Regions from separate parts of the Homo sapiens genome. Here regions 1, 3 and 4 are each linked to region 2. Evidence: fine-mapped expression QTL. Tissue or cell type: blood mononuclear cells. Region 2 holds a variant in brackets; each other region holds the start of a gene. Each region is shown on its reference strand, or each on the opposite one. Region 1 holds the start of LINC01992 (long intergenic non-protein coding RNA 1992). Region 2 has its middle 14 kb from the start of ARHGEF3. Region 3 holds the start of OR2B6 (olfactory receptor family 2 subfamily B member 6). Region 4 holds the start of SAMD14 (sterile alpha motif domain containing 14).

Evidence for each region.
Region 1: LINC01992 starts here. The variant in region 2 is fine-mapped to the expression of LINC01992 in blood mononuclear cells (TOPMed, PIP above 0.99).
Region 3: OR2B6 starts here. The variant in region 2 is fine-mapped to the expression of OR2B6 in blood mononuclear cells (TOPMed, PIP above 0.99).
Region 4: SAMD14 starts here. The variant in region 2 is fine-mapped to the expression of SAMD14 in blood mononuclear cells (TOPMed, PIP above 0.99).

What each region holds. Positions count from the first base shown.
Region 1 is chr17:27,988,130-27,994,797 of GRCh38, reverse strand. It overlaps LINC01992 (long intergenic non-protein coding RNA 1992), which reads left to right and starts at 3,091. Exons shown (of 5, transcript NR_146896.1): 1 at 3,091-3,405; 2 at 5,928-6,033.
Region 2 is chr3:56,812,149-56,818,816 of GRCh38, reverse strand. It overlaps a transcript of ARHGEF3 not described here. Among named protein-coding and RNA genes, the nearest start is that of ARHGEF3, 14 kb to the right of the region's middle. The variant A/G (reference allele first, on the strand shown) is at 3,096.
Region 3 is chr6:27,954,273-27,960,940 of GRCh38, reverse strand. OR2B6 (olfactory receptor family 2 subfamily B member 6) reads right to left here and starts at 3,700. Exons shown (of 1, transcript NM_012367.1): 1 at 2,759-3,700. The coding sequence starts at 3,700. The coding sequence ends at 2,759.
Region 4 is chr17:50,127,983-50,131,982 of GRCh38, reverse strand. It overlaps SAMD14 (sterile alpha motif domain containing 14), which reads left to right and starts at 1,823. Exons shown (of 10, transcript NM_001257359.2): 1 at 1,823-2,466. RefSeq lists silencers at 1,728-1,807, 2,048-2,107.

The DNA.
Region 1 (6,668 bases), not on the chromosome of region 2:
GGGTCAGAGAAGCCAAGTGACCTGCCAGATTTGCAAATCAAATAGTGGCAGAGCCAATACTGGAAACAAAGAACCCCATTCTTTCTTCTCCACAGGATTCAGTTACTGAGATCATGATCTCTTATTTTGGTTTTCTTTTCTTTTCTTTTTTTTGTTTTGAGATAGTGTCTCTCTCTCTCTCTGTCACCTAGCAGGAGTGCAGTAGTACCATCATAGCTCACTACAATCTCCAACTCCTAGGCTCAAATGATCCCCTGGCCTCAGCCTACCAAGTAGCTGGAACTATAGGCATGAACCACTATATCCTGGCTAATTAAAACATTTGTTTTTGTAGAGACAGAGTCTTGCTATATTGCCCAGGCTGGTCTTGAACTCCTGGCCTAAGCAATCCTCTCACCTTGGACTTCCAAAGTGTGGGGATTACAGGTGTGAGCCACCATGCTCAGCCATGATCTCTTATTCTTGACATCCTGAGATGCAAGTACTGGGCCAAGGCTTTAAATGGCTTTTCCTGCAGTGGGATTACCAAGTCCCGACCACCCTGCAACCCCTGCTCTGGCAATGATCTCCATCTCCTGTTATTTGTGCTCTTGTGTAATTTCCTTCCACTAAGTGACTAATGATTCACTTCTGGCAAATAAAATGCAGTATTCATGATAGAACGGCACTTCTGAGATAGGTTATAAAAAGACTGTGGTTTGCACCCTGGGTGTGCTCTCTCTTGCTGTCTTTCCTGAATCACATGTGGTAGAGGAAGCAAGTTGCCATACTGTGAGTGGTCTTTTGGAGAGGCCTATGTGGTGTGACGAGGAACTAAGATCTTTAGCCTCATAACTCATAAGGAACTGACGCCTGATGACAACCACGTGAGCAAGCTTGGGATTGGAGCTTTCAGCTCTAGTTGAGTCTTCAGATGAGTCCATGTTCCTGGCCAACAGCTTGATGGCAGCCTCTTCAGAGAACTTGAGCCAGAGGCATCCAGCTAAGACTCATTCATATTCCTGCCCCGTAGAAACTGGGAGATAATAACGTTTTTTGTTTTAAACTATTAAACTTTGGGGTAATTTGTTATACAGAGATAGATAATACAGTATCTTTGCTGCCTGGACTTTAACTTAGTCCTCTCCTTCCTGGAGGTGTCTCCAAGGGCCCACTCAGCCTGGTGATGATAATTGGAACTGGGAGACTACAGTGTGTTGAGGGGCGCTGCAGTTAGGGGAGTATGGCTGGAGGAGCAGAAAGTAATTCTATGAAGAATGACCTCATCCTTCAGAGAATGGCTGTGGAGGAACACAGGACTGGAGAATAAAGCCTCTCTGTCATGCAAGTCCAGCTGGGCTGGGCAAGGTCTCGGTGCCAAGCTGGGCTGAAAGTGTTAAAGACTATGGACTTCCCCTTGGCAAGATTGGGGCTCCCATTAAGTCACTAGGAAGAAGATGAAAAGTGAGAGGGAATTGGGGCAACAGTACGGAGACTGGAAGCTATAGTTAGTGTCCAAAGGATCAGGCTCTGCTACTTACTGGCTCAATGACCTTGAACAAGTTGTTTAAGTTCTTTGAACCAAACATTTAAAGTGAGTATTGTAATAATATCCACTTTGAAGGGCCATTTTAAAGATTAAATGGGATGATTTAGATAGAGCTTTGAGCAGAATGCAGAATAGTTGATATTACTATTATTCCTGGAAGGGATCCAAGTTGGAAGTTTTGCCTTCAATGTTTCTGCTGTGATCTGGGTGGGTGGAAGGGGCCAGCAGGGCCCCCCCAGTAGGTCTGTGGAGGGCAATTTGGTGAGCCCCTCTCAAAAGCAAATGCATAAATAAAAGGCCAGTGGAGATACCAGAGACCACCTCAAAAGGGAATTGGAACATCAGAAGATTCGTATGAAAAAGGCTTGTAGTCTACAAAACATGGGTAAACCTTCAAATATAGCTCAACCCTCATTTGACATAGAGAAACTCTTATCGACAGCTTACTCCAATAAGTCAATGGACAAAAATGGGCAAAGGGTCTCATCTGGAAGCCATGACTCATGGTTCTCCAGAGAACTCGTACAGGAGCAGAACCCAGGAGGGTGAATTCACACCTCATCGATGTCAGTAATTTCACACTGAGGAGAAGGTATCAGTGTAATGAGTTGGAAAACAAGACAATATTAGAAGAGAAGTGATGCTTCAGAAATGAGATGAAAGTTTTTGTAGAAAAGATCACAGAAAAGTCCATGATTATAAAGGATAGCCTTGATTGATCACAGTTGGGTGGAAGATTTAAGAGGATGAAAAAATTGAGTAATAAAAACATATATGAACACTTCCCAAGGTTTGCAAGGGTTATGTTTCTGAGTCTGGTGTATTTCAAAAATTGTACATGTGTTGACATTGTGTATGTGAATCTAACATAATTCTGAAGATGATTATTGTATGCAGGACCCTACAGAGAATATGATATAATAGGGCTACCTGTATATGATCAGTCCCTAAAGTTTTTGAAACATTAGTAGGTAAAAGCAGGATAAGTGCTCATTTAAAATTTATGGGCCCGTGTGGTTGCTCATGCCTGTAATCCCTGCACTTTGGGAGGCCAAGGCAGGAGGATTGCTTGAACCCAGGAGTTCGAGACCAGCCTGAACAACATGGCAAAACCCCGTCTCTACTAAAGATACAAAACTTAGCCGGGCATGGTGGCACATGCCTGTAGTCCCAGCTACTCAGGAGGCTGAGGAGGGAGGATCACTGGAGCCTGGAAGGTTGAGGCTGCAATGAGAAGGTTGAGCCTGGGTGACAGAGTGAGACCCTGTCTCAAAAAATAAAACAATAATAAAATAAGATAAAATAAAATTTACAGATCATTTTCTGAATCTAAATTTACAGACCTTAATTTACCTTTGGAGGAGACTGCTGCTTTAAGAAAAAAAATCTCAGAATGGCCCTTTTGTTATCCAGAAGTAAAACATTGTACTCATTGTTCTTGATGGAAATTGTGACATCATTGTTAAACTGACTATAGATATTGGTAATGTAAATTGTGACTTTGCAAAGCTACTATTTACTGAGCATTTCCCATAAGGTCAAAAGAACCACTTGGAACACTCATTCAGCATACAGATTCTGAGCCCCTCCCTGAAGATCTGATTCACTAGGCTTGGTGTAAAGTCCTGGAACCCATAGATTTAACAGGAGCCCTCCACTGGCATATATTATGGGAAATAGTTTGGGAAGTAGTGCTTTACATGATTTATGTCAAGTAATTATTACAATTGCTCTCTGAAGCCGCTACCATGATTATCTCAATTTTACAGATGAAGAAACCAGCTCAGAGTATAAGATATGGTATACCTAAGTCAAATAGTTAATAAACAGGAGCGCTGCTGACTCTGGCACCCAGGACTGCTTGTCTTCAAAGCCAGGTAGGTGCAAAACCATTTTACTGTTCTGGTTGGTAGGCATGGTTGATCAACAGCTGCATAGGTTAGCTGGCTGGCTATTTCCACATACGCCCTCACTGGGTTAGGGCATGGGAAGTTGCTTGCAGGGAGTGAGGCATAGAGGGGAAGAATGGGAGGTCTGAAGTCTTCTTGGTGAGATAATTTATGGACTCCGAGCTCAAACAGTGCTGCTTTGGGGCCCAGGAGACAAAATGTGACACCGACATAGATCTGGGGCTCTAGATAGTGGTGATATTGAGAGCATCAGGAGATGGTACCCTCCGAAGATCACTGGTGATTTCAGAAGGGGCATCTAAGAATCTCCCTCCGATGCTACCAGGGCTGTGACATGGGACAGGGCACCTGAAATAGGAGAGGGAGAATATGATGGATGTTGTGTGGTGATTGTAAATAAGTGGGTTGTTTTAAGAGCATATAAGATATGCCCTTGGGGACTGCTCCAAATAACTGGGAAATGCCTTTTGTAAGGAAGGTTGGATGAGGTGGGAGCCCAAGTCATTGTCATGTGGACAATAAAAGTAAATGGGACCCCATTTTATATCCACAGACCTTGACACTTAGATTACATAGTTGGATTTTTGATGTGTCTAGACCTCATTATGTTTCTTAAGGACGGGTGCTGTAATACAGTGTCTAGCCCAGGGGGAGAGACGCAATAAAGATCTTGTGTTGAATAGAGAAAATTTGAGCTGTAGCTCCCCTCTTTCACTAACTGTTTGTGTTAGGCCGTTTTTTGCATTGCTATAAAGAAATACCTGAGACTGGGTAATTTTTAAAGAAAAGAGGTTTCATTGGCTCACAGTTCTGCAGGCTTCATGGGAAGCATGGTGCTGGGATCTCCTTGGCTTCTGGGAAGGTCTCAGGGAGCTTACAATCATGGTGGAAGCCAAAGGGGGAGCAGGAGCAAGAGAGGGAGAGTGGCAAGGGTGGTGCCACACACTTTTAAATGCCCAGCTCTCACAAGAATTCACTCTCACTATCGCAAAGGCAGCACCAAGCCATGAGAGATCCACTCCCATAATCCAAACACCTCCCACCAGGCCCCACCTCCAGCATTGGGGATCAGAGTTCAACATGAGGATTTGGGCGGGGACAAATATCAAAACTGTATGTCTGTTCCTCAGCTTCCTCTTCCTTCCTATTCCATAGCCCAGCTTTATTTCTGGCAAAGACTAAGATGCTGAGGCTCTTGTGTTTGTTCTTCCCTTCTCACATATTGGTCATGTGGTGGGTAGGAGTTGTAGGATGGTGATTTATTGAGTGATTTGTGAGACATTGGCCTAAGAACTCAAATACAAATGCACACCCATGCCACTATCTCATTTAATCCTCACCTCCACCCTGTGAAGAAAATGTTATCCATACATGATAATGAGGGCTCCCCTACCCAGAGCATGAAGGTATGGAAAATAAAGTTTCCATTTGAGAACGAGACTCTTTAGATTTTACACAATGGGTGAGAACAGCCACTTACAGTGAAATAAAAATCAGTCTGTGAAGATGTGACTTAAGAGTTTGAGACTCCCTCCCCGCTACCTCCAGTGCCATTCAAGGTGACCAGGGAGACATTCCCAAAAGGAGTGTAATTACAAAGTGGAAACCAAGCAATTTGCTTTCCATTCTTTTGGGAAAGGCAGGGAGAACAGAAGGCAAGTGGTTGGCCTGGTAGGATGGAAAAGGAAACCCAAAGAACTTGGTGATGCCCAAACACTGAAGAGAACACAGGGAGGCTAACCAAATAGAGACCTACCTTTCTGTGGCAATGCTGTGGAAGGATGGTGAGAGGCCCACAAGCCACTTAGACAGGGGACCCTGATTAAGATCAATAAAGCAAGTCATAGACTCTTATTCCAAGCTTCACAAGCAAGACACTTCCATAGGTCCCTGGGATGCCAAGCCTCTGGGTGGGAGATACTCCCTGAGCCATTGTACCCATCAAGTCTGCTCCCTGGCCTTCTGGGATTTATGCTCCAGTTCTTGTGCTCTTGGACACTCTAACTCCTGAGACGTGAACCATCCATATGCCAATAAATCAGGTCTGGGAGCTTCTCAGGCCATGCACAGATTCTGGACTGTGGTGAGTTGATGAAAGGAAATGCCTGTCTGGTGAGCCACCTGGCCTTCCTTAGGAACACCCCTCTGAATCTTTGGGCCCAGAGCATACCTTTTGCACAAGAGAAAGTGTCACTCCCTCCATTCTGGCAGCCAAACAAACACAGATTTTAAACACTTGGCCAAGGTCACTCAAGCAAAACCCTTTTTCCTCTGTTCCCGAAGCCCATACACGTATCTCCTCCCCAACTGTCCTTCCAGAGATTTACCTTCTGTTTCTCCCCCTTTCTCTCCACTCCTTCCTCCCGGGCCCTTCTCTATTGTCCCACAGCCTTGTGGTGGCACTCCAGCAGTTTTCCACAGGGAAATCCTCTTCTGGGCCAAGGCTGCATCGCGGGAGCCTTTGAGCTCTTGCTTCTGTCTCATTACAGGACTCCGACTACTGAAGGCCCAAGACTCTTGGCGGTCTGAATCTGGGGTCCCAGCTGCCTTGCCAGGATGGCAGATATCTCTCCACTAATGCAGGTGTCTTAGAAGGTAGGCCTTGTTGCTTCAGAAAGCAGTGGGTGTTAGAGGCTAAAATGGCAGACTGTCTCTCATGGGCCGTTCAGGTGAGCAGACTGCTCGAGAGAGGCCTTGGGTCAGTGCTCTTGTCTGAGAGGGGCCTTTGGAGACAGTGGCCTGGAGGCCTCTGACCTGGCTTGGGGAGAATGAGGGAACCAAATTCCAAGAGCAAGCTGAACATGCCTCAAGTGATGCTGTGGCTTCAGGTTTTTCCTTCATTATCCCATTTCCTCCTCACAACAACCCCTCTCCTGAGGACCTTATATCTCAGAAGAGGCAGCAAACTTGCCCAAGGCCACCCAGCTAGAAAGTGGCTGAGTAGGGGGCAGAACCCAGGTCTGTCTGATTCTCACGCTGCCCTGGCGTGGAACTCCCTGTGGTGTGGGGGTGTGATGCGTCCTCCTGGGTTGGAAGCACAGGAGCAGCATGGTGCTTCTAGACAGACCGAAGCCTATCAACCACCCTGGTGGACCATCTGTGTTAGGAAGACCAGTCTTAGGCACAAGCCTGGCCCATGGAAGACAAGCCACTTATGCTAGTGTCCTTGTCATTCCACCACAGGCACCAGAAACTACCAACAGAACTGATTATTATTACTGTTATTTTTA
Region 2 (6,668 bases):
CCTGGGCAAAGATACAAATGAAAACAAGCAGAATTCTTTATCAGCCAGACAGTTCACCTTTGTTCATATTCCAAGCGCGTAGGATGGCAGCAGGGGGTGCAGGGGGAGGTTTACCTGTGGTTATCCTGCTGAAAGAGGTATGCTCATTCTCACGAAAAAGAATTGATCTTGAGACTGAAAATGGCTTATGGCAGGGTGGGTGGCTGAGAACAAAAGCAATTGTTAGCATTTTTGAGATATTCATACATCTTGAGCAGCAGCTCAACTTCTATCAGTTTGATCCAGGTCTTTTTTCCTTTGAATTCAGTTCTATCAGCATCTATAGAGTGCTTGCTGTATGCAATACTAGTCATTTCAAGAGGAGGAATTTAGCTTCCTTTCCCATTATCTCCACCAGCCCCCTCACTCCAGAAGCACCTCAAATAAGCTTACCAGCTAAGCATGTACACTGTAGTCGCTGTGCAAACATAGCTTTGAGATGGCCACCCTGCCACCTCCCACATGACTCCCTGAAGTCCTTTTCTTCTTTGTCCTCTCCTGTCACATAAAATTCAGAATTTTCAGGAGAATTTCAGAATTTTCAGTAGAGTTTCAGAATTTTCAAGATAGAAGGGAACTGAGGGTCACCCAGTTCTGTTTGGTAACAAATGTGTTCCACTTCTTCCCCTAGCCAGAGTCCCAGGACAGAGGGTTAGCTCATTATGTCTTTGGCTCCTCTTTTATCCCTAACCTCTCGGGTATAAAATGTAAGTGATTAATGTTCCACAAGACTTGGACTGAAAAACTTTAATCCAGTACATTCTGTTTGATCAAAACAGGGTCCAGGAAAGTTAAATGACTTGTCCATAGCTGCCACAGTCTGTGGGTAAACAGGGACCAAAACCCAAGGCCACTTGATCCCCCATGCGTGGCCTTCCTATAAAGCCACTTGCCCATGGTGTGGACATGATTGCCCTGTGGGTACGGGGCATGCTGGGGCCAATGACACGCTATCTTTGGGGAAGGGTGTAGCTTTGTGGTTAAGACCATCAACGTTCTGGCAGACTAAGTAAGTTCTGGCATGGCTATTTAGTAGCTGTGTGATCTTGAGCAAGTTACTTATCTTCTCTGAGCCTCCATGCCCTCATTTATACAACAGGGCAGTACCCTCTTCAGCAGGTTGTGAGGATTCAGTAAGGTAATATATGTCACATGCTTGTCACAGGTCTGGCATAAGGCAAATGGCACCTAACATTATTTTCTAGCTTTTCAGCACTCAGGTGTGAACTTCCCAAGTCATAATGGTTCTTTCTGTTCCAGCTGAAGTTAACTCAAACCTGTCTTTATTACTCCATTTGTTGAAAGAGAATCTGATATGGAACTTTTTGCTTGGATGATGTGCCACACATGTAGTCTACTGTTAGAAATTGTTTAAAAATCTGAGTTTCAGAGCTGTCTTTCCAACTGGTTGGTTGGTTCCTGGGTTTTGAAGAGATTCGTTCCTCCTCCAGACTTATCTCCTCGCTCTGTTTGGGACCATAATAAACCTAGCTACTGTTTATGAAATTATTACTATGTGGTAGCCCCTTAACCAGGTTTCTCTCTAATCTTCACCTCCACCCTTTGAAGTAGGTGCTATTTGGTCCTGATTGCAGATGAGGAAACTGAAGTTCTGAGAGACTGAGTAACTTGCTTGATGGTTGATATTTTGGTGGTTCTCCCTCGTGGAAGGTGGAAGAGCACACTGTGCTCTGTAGTTTTCTGGATGTGAGATTATGTCTAGGGTGACTCTAGCACTTGGGGTTGACACCTGACAAGGACTTGAGTGAGCATCCAACCCCCTGATTGATCAGCAGGGGAAGCTGGTGAGCAAAAACGTCACAGGACTGGACCCAAGTCAGCACTGCTTCTCATTCAGTGTTCTTTCAGTCATATCATATAGGCTCAAATCCTTGACCCTTGCATCATAGGCTCTGGCCTCAGGACTCCCTGGTTTGTGACTGGCCTGTGAATTAACGTTCCGCTTCAGAATTGGAACTTGAGGTTCTAGAAGCAAGGTGCTTGCATTTGAACTCCAGCTCTGCTGCTTACTAGCTGTGTGACTTTGGGCAAGTTGCTTGAACTCTCTGTGCCTCAGTTTCTCCTACTATAGAAGTACTCATTTCATAGGATTGTTGTAAGGATTACTTGAGATACTTCATTAAAGTCAAAGCACAGTGCCTGGCAGAGAGCAAACACCTCTTCGGCTCTCAGCATCATTTACTGAGCTCTCATCACTTGCCAGGCATCTTTTGGCAATGGGGATGTAGCCTTGTACAAGCGATTCATGATTCTTTTGGAGCGTACAATCTAGTAGGGGAAACAGATGCTAGAGAATAATGAAGATTATGATTTATTAAGTAATTCTAGTGCTATTTGTTATTTATGGGGCACTATTTAGAAGTTGCTGCAAGGTATCTTTGTTTTTAGTTCTAATTCTTATAAATGGACAACATTAATGTAAGTAAGTATTTTGGGTAAGAAGTTTGGCCAGGGTTGCACAGAACCCTCAGCTTTGAGAAGCCTGTGGTTTAGCATCTCATGCCAGCAACCATCTAGATGTGTATTTTTGTTTTGTTTTTTAGAGACAGAGTCTTGCTCTGTCACTCAGGCTGGAGTGTAGTGGTACAATCATAGCTCACTGTAACCTCCAACTCCTGGGCTCAAGCCATCCTCTTGCCTCAGCTTCTAAAGTAGTTAGGACTATAGGAATGCACCATCATGCCCTCCTAAATTTTTACATTTTGTGTACAGACAGGATCTCACTATGTTGGTCAGCCTGGTCTTGAGTTTCTGGCCTCAAGTGATCCTCTTGCCTCAGCTTCCCAAAGTACTGGGATTATAGACATCAGCCACCAAGCCCAGTCAGTCATCTGTGTTATATCCAGAACAGAATTAGGTATGGCCCTACCACTTAGATGCAAGCAGCCCACCCTTGAAGGGCAGAAGGGAAGCTGTGACTGGGCAGAATCCACAAGGCAGCAAGACTTGGTCCACTGAAGGAACAGATAGCTCTCATAGTCATAACAGGCCTGTAGGAAGAAGACAGTGTAGGAACCAAATGCTGTTGTAAAGAT[A/G]ACACAGGCACTATGTAACCGAGTACCTATTTTTAAGTGACAGTGGTATATTTTAGGCCAGTTCTATCCCATTTGTAGTCTGTCTCCATTTTCCCTCAGTAATTCTTTTCTCATAGTTGATCTTTCCTCTGTTTCAACCTCTTGTTTGCTTTGCCATTTGATATTAAAAGAATCTATATGCATATGCATTTCTTGACAAATGAGTACATTGAGCTTAATTTTCTGATGAGCCTTCATAAAATATTACCATGCTGAACCAACCCAAAATGTGGGCTGCCTATACCAAACATGCTAATTTTAGACAGGGTGCTTTCATCAGTACATAAGATATGAATTTTTATTTGAAAGCTTTCCTGAAATTAAATAGCATAAAATCAAGATAATACTCCATATACACTTCAGTCTTTGCTGTTTAATAGAATCACAGAAGCATACACATTTATGTTTAAATCACCTTGTTATATGGTTCAAGAATCTATGTCTCAGAGAGATCACTTGACTTGCCCAAGACCACAGACTTAATGGTAGGGCCAGATTGTATACCATGTCTTCTTTTTTTTTTTTTTTTAATTTTTTTAGAGGTGGGGTCTCGCTCTGTTGCCCAAGCTGGAATGCAGTGGCACGATCATAGCTCACTGCAGCCTCAAACTCTTAGGCTCAAGCAATCACCCTGCCTCAGCCTCCTGAGTAGCTGTCACCATAGGCATATGCCACTGTGCCTGGCTAATTGTTATAATAATAATTGTTATTATTATTGTAGAGATGAGGTCTTACTTTGTGGCCCAGGCTAGTCTCAGACTCCTGGGCTCTAGTGATCCTCCCACCTTGGCCTCCCAAAGTGTTGGGATTATAGGTGTAAGCCACTGCACCTGGCCCATGTCTTCTAATTTAGGTCAGTTCACTCTTCACTCTGCTGCTTCTTTTATATATGTGCAACAGTCATATCCTTTTTTGAAATTATAAGATTAAATCAAAGAATTAATGTCTTTGGAAGCAAGGAGTGTTGGAAAAGTTCTCCAAATTCCACCTTTTTTCCTTAATTCATTTAAAAAAAAAGGGAGAAGGATGATTTATTTACCGGAAGGGTTAATAATAGCATGACGTGCTAACTGTATGCTTAGAAATCTGACATACATATTATCTTATTGGATTATTCATGTGTTTTTAACTCATTAAAACCTTGAAACTCTCATATCCCCATTTTATAGATGCTTAAACTGATGTTTGTCATCATTAAGTAAACTGTCCAAAGTCATATAGTTGGCAAGTGAAAACTTGGTATTTGAACCCAGGCTTCTCATTCTAAAGCAGAGGTGTCCAATCTTTTGGCTTCCGTGGGCCACAGTGGAAGAAGAATTGTCTTGGGCCACACATAAAATACACTAACACTAACAATAGCTGATGAGCTTAAAAAAAATCGCAAAAAAAAGTCTCATAACGTTTTACGAAAGTTTACAAATTTATGTTGGGCCACATTCAAAGCCATCCTGGGATGCATGCAGCCTGTGGGCCATGGGTTGGAAAAGCTTGTTCTAGAGCTTGTATTCTATGTTCTTCCAGAAAGAAGGACAGAGTGTTGAGTATTCCACAAAGAAAATTTTGCTGTAAAGGCAGAGTGGGAGGGAAATATCTTATTCTTTTTCAGTTTACTAGCTCTTCACTTTATAATTTAACCTTCCATATTAAAAGCTTCTCTAGGAAGTGAGAATTAATTTGGGGGAAGGAAGCCTCAATTATTCCTGCTTCCAGCTGGTACAGATGCTTGGCCACTTCAGGACAGGTAGGAGGGAGAATGTTGGCATCTGTCTACTGAGCTCAGAAACTGGAGAAGCATCTAAATTCAGGAATGATGCCAGGTGGGGTGGGGGTGTGGGAGGGAGGAAAAGGATGTGGTGTTTGGGGCCCATAACTCAGGAAACGTGATGGCACCTAATTTCAGAGTGGCATGAGGCAAGCATTTAGGAAAAGAATAGTGAACTATTGTTACAGGTTTTTTTTAAATGGGTGGGTTGTTTTTATAAAGTTTTATGAACAGGAAACTGAAGCAAAATGCTGATCCTTTTAGTTTTTGAGCTCTGCCAGCATCATTTTTATATTTATTTTTGAATTTTGATGACAGGCACTTCCTTTAACACTTCTGGGAGTAAAGTGTAACAAGATACCCCAAACTGCATTTCATAACAGCAGAATCCAAATGAAGAGTTGTAGTTTCAGATCTTTTCGATAACACGGTGAGACAGAACTGGATCCCTCCCCAGCCAGGGGAGAAAGAGAACTCTTTCAGTAACTGAGGCAGTCTGCAGAATTTTTTCCCTTTCAAAACATTCTAGAAAATTTGCCTAACATGTGGAAAACCTCTAACATGCATTAAAATGGGATAGACTGTGGCAAAGAAAATACAGATCAAATTCTCCTCCTCCCATGAATCATAAAAACCCAGCCTTCCCAGCTATTGTTTCTCCTGGAAGATGACTTCATCTTAAAGAAAGTGGTTCTATCTGTTGTGTGTTTTGGATGCACTAAACCAATGTTTCAGGCATCTGGCTGCCAACTTTGGAGATGTTAAAAGCCTGTTTTGTTCCTGCAGGGCACTCTTTCATTGCCTACCTTATAAAAGTTATGTCTTATTGCATTTTCCTGGCACCAGAGCAATCCTTGTACCTACCCATTGCATTTGGTTTTTCTGAGCCTGCAGGCAGCACTGGGTTATTAAAGTTCAAGGAGGAATCCACATGATGTTGGCTTTACAATTTTAATTCTCTCTTACCTTCTTTCCTCCCTACCTCCCACTCAATGACAGATGAGCTTTGTTCACCATGTATTGTCTCTAAACCAGAATGAGCTCTCAAAATTATCTCTTGTAAGGCTCTAGGAGGGGAGAACATGACTCCCCTTTGGTGGAGCAGCTAGCAGAGAAGTTTCCTTCTTCCTTTGGCTTCTTTGAATAAAAAGTTCTTGAGTCTATAATTTATCATCAGCCTTGAACTTCAGATAAGCACCATGTTTAATCTTGCAGAAACATCAGGCAAAATCTGCCCCCTCCCTTAAAAGTCAGCCCCTTGGGGCCCACCTCAAGAAAACAGAGTTTTGATACAAATGGCATTAGGTGTGAGCATGGCAAGTTAAGAGGAAAAAAACATTTTTGTAGAGTTTAACCTGGAATCAAAAACCTAGAGAAGGGAATGAAAGAAATAACCTTTAAAGGGAAGGAAAAGGGCAGATGAGCATGTTGCACAGTGTCTTTGAAAATAAGCTATTTGATGTCCCTTTGTCACTAGTTTCAGCCTTCCTGGCAAGTCCACCTTGTTCAGGAATTAGTGTGTAAACAGCTGGAAGGAACTGAAAGCTCTATCATATCTGAGAGGCCCCCACAGTCTAACACTGTAGGAGCCGTTTCTCAAAGTGGTTTGGACTCTTCAAGAAGCTAAACATTAAAATTAGGGGCCTATTTGAATTACCTTTCAAAATTTCAAACAGCCCACTATAGTATTCTGCATATTATTTTTTGGTCCCATCTCAGAAGTTTTAAATATGGTGTATTCCTCCTTGCAAAAATCTTCTCTGGATTTGCTT
Region 3 (6,668 bases), not on the chromosome of region 2:
TGGTACCATGAATATATGTCCTTATTTCTATCTTTATAAGAGTCACTGCCAATCTTATAATTTCTACTATTACATAGAATATAACATGTAGTAAAAGCTTTTGCATTGATGTTCAATTTTATTTTTTATTTTTTTAGAGATGGGTCTTGTTATATTACCCAGGCTGGCCTTGACTCTTGGGCTCCAGTGATTCTCCTGCCTCAGCCTCCAAAATATGATGTTGTTTTATTCCCTAGATTTAGTTTACCATTGGTGGTTGGACCCGATTGCTCTTATATTTGAATATTTATGTCCTAATACAATAAAACCTCTCTTCTTGAGTAATTTCCATTAATCAACTTTTGAGTGAGCATATAGAAATAGATATGAACAAATAGAATTCTACTATTTTCTGGTTATTCTCTATGTCATAAAATAGATATCACAAAACACTTTATAAAAATTAACTTTATTAAAATGAGCTATGTGGAGAAATTATAGCCCTTGTGGACAGTTGGTGAGAATGAAAAATGATGCCACCATTACAGAAAACAGTATAGCAGTTTGTCAAAAAATTAAAAGTAGAATTACTGTATGATCTAGCAATTCCACTTTTGGGTATATACCCTAAATAACTGAAAGCAGGAATTCAGACAGATATTTATACACCGATATTCATGGCAGCATTATTCAACATAGCCAAAAGGTGAAAGCAACTCAAGTACCTATCAACTGATGAATAGATAAACCAAATGTGGTATATACATACAATAGAATATTATTCAGTCTTAAAAAGGGAAGAAATTCTGACACATGCTACAACATGGATGAACCTTAAAGACATTATGCTAAGTGAAATAACCCACAAAGCAAAAACACTCTATGATTTCATTCATATGAGGTATCTAGAGTATTCAAAATCATAGATGGAAAATAGAATAGTGGTTACCAGAGGCTGGTGGGGACAGAATATGGAATATGGGTAGTTATTGTTTAATGGGTACAGAGTTTTAGTTTCAGGAGATGAAAAAATTCTGGAGATTGACGCTCAATGTGAATGCACTTAATGCCACTGGCTGTACACTTAAAAATGGTTAAACTAGCAAATTTTATGTATATTTTACTACAAGTATAAAAAAAATCCAAAATACATTCTCCTTAAAATACAAACCACTTAAAAACTTAAAAGTGGTTTGTATTAGAAAAATAAATTTCTCAGAATTGCAAAAAAGGAGAGATAGTTTAATATGTCTTGTTCTATATGAATAATTAATATATTTTTTATATTCTCAAGGTAACTGATAATAGCTTAGTTACAGAAGTTACCAGTATAAAATTATACACCAGCACACCAATATAAATACTAGTTAAAAACCAAATCTACAATTATAAAATTAATTAAATCAATTAACCTCTCAATTTAAAAATTAACTATTTCAATTTCTGGAATTCTGTTTTCTCTTCTATGTCCTCATAATTCACCAAACTACACTGACATTGGCTTTGAGATACACATTTGTCTCCAGTAATCTGATCTGTCATTTATTTGGACCTTTAGCAATGAATTAATTTTCAGTGAGAAAATTATTGTCTTAAGCTTTAAATATACTTTATCAGTATTTTGCTTCCATGTATGTTTTTTATGATAATTATCCCTATTAGGAGAGAAAACTGAAGTCAGAACTTGGCAAACCAGATTTATTTCTCTGTTAACATTTTATTATGGCAAAAGTACATGGAGTTACTGTAGGTTTTCATAAGAAACATGATAAATATATTTTAAGCTATTGTATTTTCTACATGTATAATGCATTAGTAGAAGAAAACAATGGATAAAGAAGGGTAGCAAGGTTGTTAAATTATTATAATGTAAATGAATCACTCAACAATCAAAAGAATCAACTAATAATGTAAATGCATGCTACTTCCTCAGCACTATGATGACTTCTAAAGGTGTTGTGGTAAAATGTATGGTATAGTTTTTGTACCCTCAAGAATAAAATATAATTAGACTATTATTATGCAAGACAAAAGTACTAAACAAGAACTCTTTGGAAATCATTACATAATGTGCTATTTTGGAATCTAAGCTGTTAAGTGCTTTAGGGTTTAAGAGAACGGTAGATAATATTGATAGTTGGGAGAATTATGAAAAAAAATTCATGTAAAAGAAAATTAGCTGGACCTAATAAATATCTAGGGTTTGATTTGCAAAGGAAGTAAAAAGAATGCCTTCATTTAGTAGGAAAAACATGAGTACAGAAATATGGTAAGAAAATGGAAAATCTGGTTACAATTTTAGAATAAAAATTATTATAGATTTCCTTATGCTGATGCGGGAGTGGAAAATTTAAAATTAGAATTGTTAACCTCAGATCCAAATTTGAAGTGGTGGGGTTTGAGAGTTTCAGTGAGCCTCGTTTAACTAGTGTGTGTGTGTGTGTGTGTGTGTGTGTGTGTGTGTGATATTGGAGAAAGAACTTCTGGCTTTTCTACGGATCTAATTTACATTGAATTGTACAAGCATTGATGGGATGTTTGACAAACCTTGAAGATGTTGTGATTACAATTTTTGGTGAATTGGAAGGTCAATTCTGGGGGCTTGTTCAATGAAAACATTAAGGCAACAGAAGTAAATATAGCTCTTCATCAAGGAAATTTTATTTGAGGGAGTTTACATTGTTCTCTACAGTAACAACAAAAATAGGGCAACTTACAGAGAAGTTAGTAAGCTAAGTAAACATTTTGTCTTTAGCAAAGCTTATCATTTGCATATTTCTTATTTCTTGATTAAGAAGACTCTTGCAACCAACCTTTTAAAGCCTTCCTTTACCTCCTTGTTCCTAAGTGTATATATAAGGGGATTCAGCATGGGTGCAATGATTCCATAGAAGAGAGAAACCATCTTTCCTTGGTCCTTGGAGCTGGGCGAAGGTGGTTGCAGGTACACAGAGACGGCTGTACTATAAAAAAGAGACACCACAATTAGATGGGAACCACATGTCCCAAATGCTTTTTGTCGACCTTCAGCAGACTGTATCCTCAATACTGCTCGGACAATAAAAGCATATGATATAAGGATGAGTGTCAGGGGTATTAGATGGAAGAGCTCACTGACAAGGAATAGTTCAGCCTCATTTGCTGTTGTCTCAACACAAGATAACTTGAGCAGTGCAGGGACTTCACAGAGAAAGTGATCTATCACATAGGGGTCACAGAGTGGCAGCTGGAGAGTCAGGGTAGACAACCACACTGAGTTACTAAAACCAGTAACCCAGGATGCAGCTGCCAACTGGAGGCAGAGTCTCTGGTGCATGATAACTGAGTAATGGAGAGGCCGACAAATAGCTACAAACCTATCAAAGGACATGACGGCCAGGAGAAGATATTCAGTAGCCCCCAAGGCCAGAAATATGAAAAGCTGGGCTACACAGCCACGATAACTGATTACTTTCCTGATGCTGCATAAATTTACTAGCATTTGTGGGACTGTACATGTGGTGTAACAAAGATCCAGGAGTGATAGATTGGTAAGAAAAAAATACATGGGGGTATGAAGTTTGGTGTCCAGGCGTGACACTAGAATAATGGTCAGATTGCCAAAGATGGTCACAGTGTAAGAAATCAAGAAGACCACAAGGAGTGGAAACTCCAGCCAAGGTCGATCTGAGAAACCCAGCAGAATAAACTCCTGTATGATGCTGTCATTTACCCAATTCATGATTAATGTTTCAACTCTTGGTTTCCTGAAACAGAAAAATTCAGGAAGTCAATTAACACATATTTGTTAACTATTTCAGTTACTTATAGTCATTTTACTACCTGTTTGAAGATATTTACAGAATTGATATTGCTTGTTTTATTACATGAAAAATATACAGTTGAAAATGCTCATAATTACCAAAGTATTTCTAAAATTTAATCTTTCTATATCTGTATCATCACTGCAAAAGTGAAAGCTAAAATGTAAAAAGTAGATTCCTGATTTTAAACAACTTTCACAAAATTTCTTCTTTGATTTTTTGTCATTTGGTTAATTTTTGTAATACTGTCCACATAGATAGCTATTATTAGATTCGGTCATAATCTCTAACACATTTTTTTCACTCTAATTTCTCAATGTTAAGGAAACTGCCTTGTCATCTGAAACAAACAATTTGTTAGTTTCTTAAATTTTTTTTTATTTCAATAGGTTTTTGGGGAACAGGAGGTGTTTGGTTACATGAATAAGTTCTCTAGTGGTGATTTCTGAGATTTTGGTGCACCCACCACCTGAGCAGTGAACACTGTACCCAATGTGTAGTCTTTTATCCTTCAGCTCCCTCCTTCCCTTTCCCCCCAGTCCCCAAAGTCCATTGTGTCATTCCTCATAGCTTAGTTCCCACTTATGAATGGGAACATACGATGTGAAACAATTAAAATTATTTAGACCGCCTCAAAAACTATGCATATAGGCTGTAGCAAGCTATTAGACACATCTCAGGGAAACATCTTTTGCCTTCTAAGACCTTATCAAATTAGAATAAAAAGATATTAGTAGCATGGAATTTGGAGGCAGACAAGTCTGGGTCCATGTCCCTACTACATAAGTCATTAGTTACATCCTCCTGGGAATGTTTCTTACTCTTTGTGAGCTTCAAGCTCCTCACCTATAAAATGAGTATAATAATACCTTCCTGGGATAGTGGTACAAAGTGTAGACAAAAGGAACTGTAGTCATCTTCTGATGCTCAGAGAAAAATTATGTATGATTTTCAGAACTTTAAATGTCCTGGGGTTGCCAATAAAAAATGACTCTGTGAGGTAATATTTATCTTGTTCTCTCCACAACTCCAATACCATCAACTTTAACAACAGAGATAATAATAACTATCTGATGTGAAGTATAAATGTGATCTTTAATGTAAATTACCTGGTATAATGGCACACAGCAATGTGAATGAAAGTATCATATGACACAGGAACTCTGAGACATTCGGGGCAGAGGCTGTTCAGAGCCCTAAATTTGCTAAGTACTAATATAAGTCAATGCTACCAGTTAAAAATTTCCAAATCATCTATCTTGCTACCACCACCCTCTATTGTTTTATTATAATTTTGTTAGTGTAAAAATGTCAATTTAAGGATAGGATCATAAATTTTAAACTATTATTCAATATGTATTTCAATTTTGCTCACTTATTCTACAGTTCTCAGTATAAAATGGCAGGGAAAGCTTTTATAGCCTCTCAAATGAGTCCCTGCATATTATTGACAGCTGCATATTATTGACATGCTATGCAGCTGTCAATAAAATTAGGAATGTGGTATAGATATAAATTCAGATATAGATATACATGTACAAAAACATTCAAATCCTTAAGGAAAAAAACAAGTTTCTGAACATGTATTTAGCATGCTTCCATGTGTTTACATAAGGGAATATAATCATATTGGTCAGTATTCATATATGTATAAAATTACCTGGAAGTATACAGAAGTGTTAAAAGCTGTTACTTCTGGGGAATGGAAATGGAAAGAGGGAGAAAAATCAGATTTTGATATTTAACTTTATCCTTGCTTTTTCTAATTTTTAACAAATATAATGCTTTTTATTATTAATAAAGATTATTATGTATTATATAATAACTTTAAGTGAGGACATATTCATACTGTATGTTTTACTATAAAGACAAGCATTGCTTTAGACTTTATAACTGAAACAATCTTATATGAATTTAGACTTTTATCTCAACAAATTTTTAAAACAGGATCTACATTAATCTACATGGACATTTTCTAAAGACTGGAATGCAAGGGCATTGGGCATTCGGCATCTTATTGACAAAAAAAAATCAAAAAGAGTTGCCACTCATTATAGGAATTCTGAAAAGCAGAACAAATGGAATCCATAAAAAGAGATTTCACAAGTTCACAATTTCCTTGAATTAACAAGTGTTGGAAAATACCCTCAGTCTATATAATTAGGGTCACTGCATATCTCAGTTTGCACAGGACTGCGAGTTTACTCCTGCTGTTCTGACACAATTACTAATAGAACCCTTCAGTCTTCAAAAGAGTTCATGTTTGGGTGATAAGTTATAAGGTCTCTCTAGCTGTAATATTGGAGACTAAAATAATTTTCAAATTATTGTTCAAGAGATACCTCATCACTGAGGACACTGCATATGCTTTCTCCTTACTTGGGCCAGTGGCTTTCCCTGACCAGCCCTGTATCTGGCATTTCTCTGCTAGAATACAGCCAAAAACAAACTCTCCAAGAAGCCCTGACTAATGAAAATTCTAGAAGGGAGGAATTCAATTAACTTCTACTCTTTCTCACTGAGGTTCAGCAATTACAAAAGTATTAAATGCACTTCTGTTATAGGTAATGTCCATGATCCACAGCAGTGAGGGAAATTTTGCCCCAAATTTCTCCTGCATGAGAACAAAAGTACTGGGGAGACTGTAGTACAACTCATTCTTATATTCTGCTTTGCTAACTTTTGGGGCAAAATTTCCCCATCTTTCAAATATCCAGTAACCTCTTTACATATCCACTCTAAAAGAGAGAACTTTTGTTAAAAAGTTGAAAAATTGTCTGGGTGTGGTGGCTCACGCCTGTAATCCCAGCATTTTGGAAGGCTGAAGTGGGTGGATCACCTGAGGTCAGGAGTTCAAGACCAGCCTGGCCAACATGGTGAAACCCC
Region 4 (4,000 bases), not on the chromosome of region 2:
GGGATGTACAGGGTCTATATAATCAAGCCCCCCACTACAGCCCACCACTCAGATCTCACCAGATGCCTACAAAGCACAACCCCTTTAAGACAGCCAGATGCAGCCCCCACAGCTGTCAACAGAAACCCCACCCCTTCCCCAGATTTCCACAATCTAGCCTCATGGCTGCCAGAAGATTCTGAAGACACCCAGAGACCCCCAAACTCCTATAAATCCCCTAGGATACCCTCAGACCCTAAAGGCTGTTAATTCTGTCCTCACTCATAGTCACAAGATTGTCCTGGTTCAACAGGCCACTTCCCGGAGGCCTCGGACTGCAGAGTCCTGTGGGCCATCAGGGAACTCTGTCCTATAGACTCCACACCTCTCCTCTGACTCTAGACCCCTGATCCAGCTTCACCACTTGCCTTTTTTTTTTTTTTTTTTTTTTTTTTTTTTTTTTTTTTTTGAGATTTGAGTTTCACTCTGTTGGCCAGGCTGAAAGGCAGTGGCACAATCTCAGCTCACTCCAACCTCCACCTCCCAGGTTCAAGCAATTCTCATGCCTCAGCCTCCAGAGTAGCGCCACCATGCCTGACTAATTTTTGTATTTTTAGTAGAGACAAGGGTTTCACCATGTTGGCCAGGCTGGTCTCGAACTCCTGACCTCATGTAATCCACCCACCTTGGCCTCCCAAAGTGCTGGGATTACAGTCGTGAGCCACTGCGCCTGGCCTTTCACCACTTGCTCTTGAGCAAAGCACTTTCCTTCTTCTAAGTCTCTGTTTTCTCTGAGGCAGTGGGTAATGGAAACACCCACCTTGTGGGTTTATTGTGAGGGTGACAATAGATGATCTGAGAGCGCCTGGCACCTGCCAAGCTGTGACGTGCGGTAGCTGGTTGTGGATCCCTACATTGCCTCCCTGGCTGGCCTGCCACTACCATCAGCGCACTGGGTCCAAGTCTGATCTCATCCGTCCCCACCCCCACCTGCTCCAGGGCTTCCTGCCTCAAGCCAAGGTCCACAGCCATCCTAGACCCCTCCTCCCTCACCTCCTAGTCCAGCAGGTCCCCAAATCCTGTCAGCTTCTTCGGTGTCAGCTTCTTCAGGCCTGCATCCTGAAGGGCTCTCAGCTTAATCTGTAATCTTTATGCCCACTGCCACCGGCCCTCAATAGCCTCCAGCGGGTCTCCCTGCCTTCAGAGTGCCCTCTGTAACCCTGTCTCCAGGGGAGCCAAGGGTGCTTCCTAAATGCACACCTGAGCCCCTCCCTCCTCTTAATTTTGTGTGTGTGCGCGCGCGCGCGTGTGTGTGTGTGTGTGTGTGTGTGTGTGGGCGGCGGGGTGGGCGGCTGGTAGAATAAAGTGCAAGCCCCCTGCACCTCCCCAGCTTCAATTTATCTTCCCCTCTTGCCCTCCCACCCCCAACACCCCCTGGCACTTCCCTACCCTGGCCCGCAGTTGTAGCCAACACATCACATCCTCTGGGAATCCCCCAGCCCAGCTCCCGCCGCGGCCGCCTGGACCCAGGCCGGGCCAGGGGTGCGCTCTCCCTTCCGGCAAGAAGTGCCCTCTGTTAGCTGGGCCCATGGCGCCCAGGCTCGTGAGGGCCTCCCCACTCGTCTGAGCCCCCGACTGGCCCACTGGCCTTGAGCGCAGTTAGGGGGCGGGGGTTCTGTTCACCGCTGTCCCCTCCAGCCTCGGCGCCCCGGCTGCTCGGCGGACGTTTGTTGAATGAATGAACTAATCGGGAGCCCTGATGGACCCGGCAGAGGAGGCGGAAGCCCCGTGGGTCCCGTGGCGGGACCGCCCCGGAGCCGCTCCCACCCGCGCAGACTCCGGTGCGCCGCGTCTCCCGCGGGCAGAGAAGTAGCTGCAACTCCGCTCCCCGGCCCCAGCCGCCTCCTCCCCGCCGCCCTCCCCCGCCCCCGCCCCCTCGCTCCCTCCCGCTCTTTGTCTCCTGGGCGCCCGGCTTCTCCGCCACGCGCCCCCCACCCCGACGCCCCTTCCCCGGAGACCCCCGCGGACCCCTGCCGACGCGACGCCGCGCGAATCGGCCCTGCCAGGCGGGGGCCCCGCGTCCGGCCAGGCCTGGCGGGCGGCAGGGGCGGGGAGGGAGGTGGCGCTCGCTCTTCGCTCTTCTCTCTCTCTCTCTCTCTGTCACACACACACACACGCACACGCACACGCACACACACACGGAGCATCCTCCCGTCAGGTCTCCTGGTCCAGCCCCGCCCGCGCCTCCTGCTTCCAGCGAACCTGTTCCCTCTCCCCACATCCCCCGCCCTCCATCTCCCCCGGCTCTGGGACCCTTCCCGCCGACCTCACCCCCACCCCCGGGATGGAGCGGCTCGAGCCCGCCCGGAGCCCCCCGCGGCCGGGGTGACGGTCCCCCCACCCCTCTCCTGCCCGGCCCCCGCCTCGAGCACCATGGGCCTGAGGGGTTCCCGGGGCGCCAGACGCTGAAGATGACCGATGCCGGAGGTGAGGGGCCGGGCGCCCTGGGGTGGACCGGGAACTGGGGCTAGGGCCACTCGGGCCCGCGGTGGGACCCTGAGTGGGGTTGGGCAGGGCTAAGCGACAAGGGCCTTTCTTCCCCTATCCCTAGGGGGACCGCACGGGGCTGGGGTGCCGGGCTGTCAGGGGAGGGGGCGGAGATAGGATTTATGGCCCTAATCCCCTCCCTCCCGCCCGACGCCCGGAGAAATTAATAAAAAGCTGGTGTGGGGGGAGGGGGAGAGGGCTTAACTCTTTCTTGCCCGGCGGGGAGTTGTGCTGATGGTTTGGAGAGAAACTAGCCACCGGGCTCTGACTGGGGAGAAGGGCTCTGAGAGTGGAGTAGGTGCCCTGTCCCCAACCTCACCCCATCTCCAACAGTGCTTTGAGGGGGTGCCCGACTCCTGAGGACTACCCCAAGCCTGGGGCCAGTGGACGGCCGGCGATATGGGAAGGGGGGACCACCTCTCTGGCTCCACAACTGCCTCCCCGACCGCTAGTCTCCTTTCCCATCCACCTCTTCCCGGCCTCTCCCAGTTGCACTTCTCTCTGTCGCTTTCTCCTCTTCAGGGGCCCTTTCCTATCGCCTGCCCGAAGGGCTTCTCCCTTCTCTCCCACCCTCGGGCGTCACTTAGAGCGGCGGAAGCCCTTGTTCCCAGTGCCAGTTCCCGTGGCCCCACTCTCGGTGTGATCTCTTTCTTCTCAGCAGCCCTGTGGACTCTCCGCCAGTTTGTGTGTCTGTCTCTGCTTCTTCCTACTCCTCACTTCCTTCCGCTCCCGCTCCCGCTCCCTCCCCAGGAATTGTGCGCCCTTTCTTCCTTTCTCCTTCTCCTGGGTCCCAAGAGGCTGTGAGCTCACCTGCCTCCCTTTCTCCCAGAGAAGGGTCAAAGGTCATTGGTGCTCCTTCTCCAGGATTGGAAGCCTTGGGGGGAAGGGTATCCAGAGGAACCGGTTCAATCCCACCCTTGTGCAGTTACCTGGCTGAATGGGGGTGTGTGTGTGTGTGTGTGTGTGTGTGTGTGAGAGAGTGTGCGGGGTGTGTGTGGGAGTGAGAGTGGGGGCGGGTTTGGTGTCTAATTTTTCTAGGCTCAGTTTTGGAAGGAGAGGGTTGGGTGGGAGGGGTCTGGTGACCCCCTGGACACAATGTAGGGAGGGTCCCCCTACACACCCCAGAAAGTTAGTTGTTGAAGGGAAGAAAAGAGAGCAGTTTGTGCTGAATCAGGATGGACCGAGAATGGCTTTGAGCAGGAAACCCCAATCCAGCCCAGAGGGTGCCTGGAAGAGGAGGACTCCAGCCAGCAGAGGATCTCGACCCTGGAATGGGCTCTTGAATAAAGAACACAGGATCTTCATTCTCAGAGGCAGAAAGGAGACAACACTACTGCCCTCAGAGAGCCTCCATTCTGATGGGAGAGGCAGTTCCTGTCTTCACAGTCCCTAGTCTGACGGAAGAATACGTGGACCCTTTCTTCTCTGGGCTCCCATCTGATTGGTGGGGGGGAGATGAGACCTATTTAAGGAA